Regions from separate parts of the Homo sapiens genome. Here region 2 is linked to region 1. Evidence: fine-mapped expression QTL. Tissue or cell type: fibroblasts. Region 1 holds a variant in brackets; the other region holds the start of a gene. All regions are shown on one strand. Distances are between the middles of the regions.

Region 1 (2,904 bases):
ATAATATCCTGTTTGTTCCTACACTGCCCTCCGCATTAAAAAAACAACGACAGCTACATCAAGCCCTTTTGTTAAGTGGCCACAAGCTGTACATTTCTTGGTCCCAGGCAGGTATACTGGGAGTTCAGATCCTGGTCTTAATGCTCTTCTCTGGTTCTGTGACATCCTAGAATGTGAAGAGGAGGCCTTGGGTTCTGTCACTGCCTCCAGCCCGAGCCCCCTGCTCTTCCTGGGCATCCCGGATGGACCATGTCTGCCTTTCTGCTGACTCAGATTTATTTCTGGTCCAGCCATTCACAGCGTCCATGTGTCTGAACTCCTCAGCCAGAGGGCAGGTGGAAGGGCAGGAGGAGGACCACGTGTCAGCTTTCCATCCAGAGAGCCACCCCAAAACAGAGGATGTCCTTGGGCTTGGACCAGCTCCACAGAACACTCTGAACAAATTCTCACGATGCCAGGCTCCTAGGCCGCAGAAAATGCCTGTCTCCTCCCAGTTCTAAGATAGCAAAGGGTGTGCGTTACCTCAAAACCACTTAGTACGCAGCCAACCTTAATGGGCACTCTTGGCATTACTGTTCTACTCAGCAAATAGACAGTCCTAGGCAGGAAGGAGATATTTAGAATCCTACTCTGTAAAACAGAGGCCTTTCCTAGGCCTCCTGTGATGAAGGCATGGGACCGTTACCAGACTTTGTCCCTCAAGGGTAAATTGTTTTCAAGAAAACAGGAAGCTAGGAGCCATCTAGTCCTTTGAAGTGCTGTGAAGTGGGCTGCCTTCTTCCCCGCCCAAGGGAGGGAGTCTCTGAGGCTTCCTGGCAAGGGTTAGTGTGACCTCCAGCAGTCACCTTCAGCATGGGTTGCTGCTGGATTCCTGGCTCTGTGGGCAGGAGCTCCCAGAATGCTTGACACAGACTCTACGTGGCTTCCTTTGGGAAGACAAATGGAGCCTGCTGTAGGCTATGGCAGAGATGGAGGCCCAGGGCCTCTGAGCTAGGGGCAAAGTCAGTCTCCCTCCTGTGTCTGAAACCCCAGGACTCCCCATTCTGTATGGTACTCCCCCCGACCCAACCCACAGTTTCCTTAGGAAAACTGACCTGCCTA[T/C]GGCCCATTTCCTAATGATATGATTTGGTCATGAGGCTGGCAGAGTCCATGGGGTGCATGTGGCACTCCTGTGCTTTGCTGTGACAGTGCCTTAACCCACAGGCGTGATTAACTCCAAAGTCTGGGGTCTTTGGAAAAGGTGCCTATCAATGCAGAGGAAGTGAAGTGCTCAGACCGCCAAACAAGGCCAAGAGCCTCCCGGAAGAGCCTGCCTGTCAGGAAGTCTCTGGCCACATGCTGTGGCCATGCTCGCCTCTATGAGAGGACAGAGAGAACAGACCAAGGACACGAGTTCAGAACAGAGAAAATGTGAGAGCCGTAGACAGGAAAAGCAGCCCTTCTGGAAACAGCACACTGGTGTACCTAGCGTAACCTTGTCCTGAGGGCCACTAACTGCCCCTCACTTGACTCAGCTGACACTGTGAGGGGTCACGAGCCTGGCAACACTTTCTGGAAGGTCTAAAGGGCAGCACTGAGGAGACCTAAAGGTTTTGGTCTGTTTGTCAAATGTCACTCTTCCTCACATTCGGAGGAGAGCATTTGAAGGCAGACCACTCTAGGGGCAAGAACAGGACTGATTTTAACCCCGGGACAACCAACCAAGCAAGCAAGCTAGTGAAGAACAGGCCTCTGCCCAGGTGAAACACGTGGGGCCAATTCCATAGGTTTTTTTTTTTTTTTTTTTTTTTTTAATTAACCTCCGGTGGGAAAGGTAAGGATGGTGGGGAGGGGAGACGGTTACTTGTCTCATTATCAATGTGTTAGTATTAGTGACGGCAAAACTGAATCTCTAGCAATACTATTTGCCCGTTTAAACTGGGCCTGGCTATTGGGCTTATGAGCAAATAGCTTCTCAAAATTTTAATTTTCTAGTTAGTTCATCCCAAGTCACTGATTTACATGTCTTTTGAGACTGAGACTGCTGGGGAAAAACATTCCCAGAAATGAGTGGATTAGACTCTGTGAATTACAAGGGAAAGACACTTTAAGTTTAAAGTTGTCCCAAACTTAGCGTCAAAATACAGCCTTTAGATTTTTTTTTCCATCGAGAAAAATTCCTGATTCACTACCAAAAAGAGGCCCTGCAGGCAGCGTGCTGATTTGTTCTGCTCCTGGTGCTGAGCTGCCCCCACCTGTGTGCAGGGAGGAGGGGTCGCTTCGGCCAAGGGCGGGAGCTCTGCTGGCTTTAGCGAGTCACCATTGCCTCCTCGCAGTCAGCGTCCTAACGGGGTCCCCGTCTACAGCCCGGCATCCACTCCTCCAAGGCCCTTCACACTGGCTCTAGCCATGACCCCTCTTTGGAGGAATAAAGCAGAGTTTCACGGACTCACCGACCTTGAAGCCGGAGCCTCCCACGTCCTGCTGAGCGCACACAGCCAAGAAGTGTATGCAGGGCGAGCTGGTCGGGCCGGCCTGGAAATCCTCCCTGGCGGGGCGGGGCCAGAGGACCTCACCAATCCCAGCGTAGACCTCCGGGCGCACCGGCCCCCACAGCTGTACCCTTGAAGGCAGGCCCGTGGGCGCTGGGCCCTTTATAGCACCTGCCCTTTCTCTGAAACGTAAAAGGCGGAGCCAGTCTTGCTTCCCAGGCCTGGTCCTGGAGGCTCCTTTGCCAGGGCTCTGGATCTCAGAATGGAAGGGCCAGCAGGTGAAATTGCACATCTGTTGGGGGATTTGTTTCTCTCTTCTCTCAGGTGTACCAGCCTTGGGGCCCTGGTGAGCTCTGGAGGATGAACCCCTCAAGCCAAGGTCGGAGAGGAGGATGTCTCAAGCTGCCTGGCTCCAGCAGCTGACCGGGCCCTG
Region 2 (2,904 bases), 67 kb before region 1:
ACTTAGACTAAGCATACCGCATTTATAAAGTCTACAGTAGTGTACAGTAATACCCTAAATAATATCGTAGGCCTTCACACTCACATACCACTCACTGACTCACTTAATAGCTACCGACAGCCCTGCAAGCTCCATGCGTAAGTGCCCTATTCAGCTGTACCATGTTTTCTTTTACACTATATTTTTACAGTATCTTTTCTGTGTTTAGATACACACCATCCTTTTACAACTGCCTACAGTATTTAGTAGTTATACTGTACAGGTCTGTAGACTAGGAGTAACAGGCTATCCCATACGGCCCAGCTGTGTAGGTTTGTGCAAGTACACTATGATGTTCACACAACCACGAAACGGCCCAACCATTTCTCATAACTATACCAGTTCTTAAGGGGAGCATGGCTGTATTAAGCCACCACCTTTTTTGTTGTTGTTGTGGTCGTTGTTGAGACGGAGTCTCACTCTGTAGCCCAACCTGGAGTGCAGTGGGCGATCTTGGCTCACTGCAACCTCTGCCGCCAGGGCTCAAGCGATTCTCGGGCCTCAGCCTCCCGAATAGCTGGGATTACAGGCGCGTGCCACCACGCCCAGCTAATTTTTTGTATTTTAGTAGAGAAGGGGTTTCACCATGTTGCCCAGGGTGGTCTCGAACTCCTGAGCTCAGGAGATCTGCCCGCCTCGACCTCCCAAAGTGCTGGGATTACAGGCGTGAGCCACCGCGCCCGGCCTAAATTATCACCTTTTAAGACCAGCATCCCTGGCAACCCCCCAAGTCTCAGCTCCTAGTAACAGAAAGACCCCTTCCACAGAAGCTGAAGGGTGGACCCAATGAATTGGTGTGAGAAACTCCATGCCACTTTACCAGCGCACTCTTCGCTGAAGTTTATGCGACTGTCATAGTGGGGACCGAAGCTGTTCAAAAGGAAGTAGATTATCCTTCCCCTACGTACGTGGGAAGGGGGAGGCTCTGGGTTATCAAGAGGGTGAAGTGGGAGAGCCAAGCGGCCCACCCACAGGCGGATTCCAGGGCGGCTGGACGCACAGCCCCCAGCAGCCGGAGCCCAACAGCTGAGGTCGCCGCCCCTAGACAGCCCGCGCTCCAGCCAGCTCAGGGACCCAGCGGCTAAGCCTTCTGTCCTCCCAGCTTCCCACGCAAGTTCCGCCAGGCCAGAGGGAACGAACGACGAGACCCTGCAGCTTTGGTGGCTGAGAACCTCACCTCACCGCGCTACCGCGCAGCTTCTTACCGCGCACGAATCCCCCAGAGCAGCCGAGTTGGCGAGCCGGGGAAGACCGCCCTCCTGCGGTATTGGAGACCGGAAGCACATAGTGCCCGAGAGCGCGTCACTTCCGGCGTCACAGACGGTCTTTACAAGCGACTCGTGGGCGTCAATACTGGGCTGAGTTTGTGGCGCGCTTAGTGATGGGATGGCCCTGTGCAGGACGCCGACACGAAAAGATGAAGAGTTCAATCCGTGCTGTCTGAACTCACAGTGTAGCAGGCGAGATAGACGGGAAGATCGGTAGGGTGGGAGATGCCGGAAAGGCTTCCCGTGAGACTGGATAAGAAATCAAAAATCTGGTGAAATTGCCGGCAAGAGGGAGTTAAGGACATTCCAGGCAGAGGCAAGGTAAAGGCGCGGTGGGAGTGGGTCACTGTGATAAAAGTCTGAAAAGGACATTTGGGGGCTCTCTTGGGTGAGAGGCAGTGCCTCATGTCCCCCCTTCAGTGCTCGTTGAGCATTCAATTAAAATGTTAACACTTTGTAGCCAAACAAGTTCTCTTTTTAAGAGGAAAACCCTGGATTTCCAAACGGCTCATTTTCTGTAGCTTCTTGCAAATGGATACCACCACCAGCTGTGCCTAGTGAAAAAATGCAATTTACCAGGACCACTACTCTCAACAGTTTGCTCAATCCATTTAACCTTTTGAATATTTGTCCACTTCTTTTTATCTCTGTTGGCACCTCCTCCCTTGTCCCATATTGTACCTGTAGTTCTACAACTGGTCTGGGGATTCATTCTGCCCCAACTCCCTGAAATCCATTTTCCGTGTCGTAGGAACGGAACTTTTGAAAATGTAAATCATTACATTTAAAGCAGTACTGCTGTACTGCTTTAAACTCTCCCTTCGCTTCCCATTGTTTTAGGATGAAATTCGAACTCCTTATGAAGTCCCTGCCTACTTCCCTAGCCTCACCTTGCTCAGTCTCTCCTTTGAGCTCCGTGCATAGGATCATTTTTTCAATTTCTCAAATGCCGTGTGTACCTTGCCATCTCCAGGCCTTTACATTTGCTAGTCTCTTTGTATGGTACTCCTTTTCTTCTTCCAGTTACTTTCTACTCACCCTTCAAGGCTTTAAGTATTTTATTCTCAAGAAAGCCTTCCAGCCCCCTACCCCCATACTAGACCAATCCCCTACTGTGTGCTCACGGCAGTCTATACTTTCTTATGACACGGTTCACATTTGTAATTACACAATAATTGTGTAAGTTTATTGTATCCTCATTGCCTGGTACATCCTTGGTGCTCACTGCGTATTTGTTTTTTTGTTTTGTTTTGTTTTGTTTTTTGAGAAGGAGTTTGGCTCTTGTCGCCCAGGCTGGAGTGCAATGGCGCGATCTCGGCTCACTGCAACCTCTGCGTCCCGGGTTCAAGCGATTCTTCTGCCTCAGCCGCCCAAGTAGCTGAGATTACAGGCGCCCGCCACCGCGCCCGGCTAGATTTTGTATTTTTAGTAGTGATGGGATATCGCCATGTTGGCCAGGTTGGTCTCAAACTCCTGAGTTAGGCGATCCGCCCACCTCTTCCCTCCAAAGTGCTGGGATTACAGGCGTGAGCCACCGCGCCTGGCCCTCGTATTTGTTAAGTAAATGAAGAATAAGTACTTTGCGATGTTTGTTTAA

Evidence for each region.
Region 2: it holds the start of CKMT2-AS1, and the variant in region 1 is fine-mapped to the expression of CKMT2-AS1 in fibroblasts (GTEx, PIP above 0.99).

What each region holds. Positions count from the first base shown.
Region 1 is chr5:81,232,910-81,235,813 of GRCh38, reverse strand. It overlaps CKMT2 (creatine kinase, mitochondrial 2), which reads right to left and starts at 2,492. Exons shown (of 10, transcript NM_001099735.2): 1 at 2,437-2,492. The variant T/C (reference allele first, on the strand shown) is at 1,102.
Region 2 is chr5:81,300,011-81,302,914 of GRCh38, reverse strand. It overlaps CKMT2-AS1 (CKMT2 antisense RNA 1), which reads left to right and starts at 1,346. Exons shown (of 2, transcript NR_034123.1): 1 at 1,346-1,628. ZCCHC9 (zinc finger CCHC-type containing 9) reads right to left here and starts at 1,328. Exons shown (of 6, transcript NM_001131035.2): 1 at 1,217-1,328. RefSeq lists enhancers at 20-809, 817-996, 1,147-1,246, 810-1,599.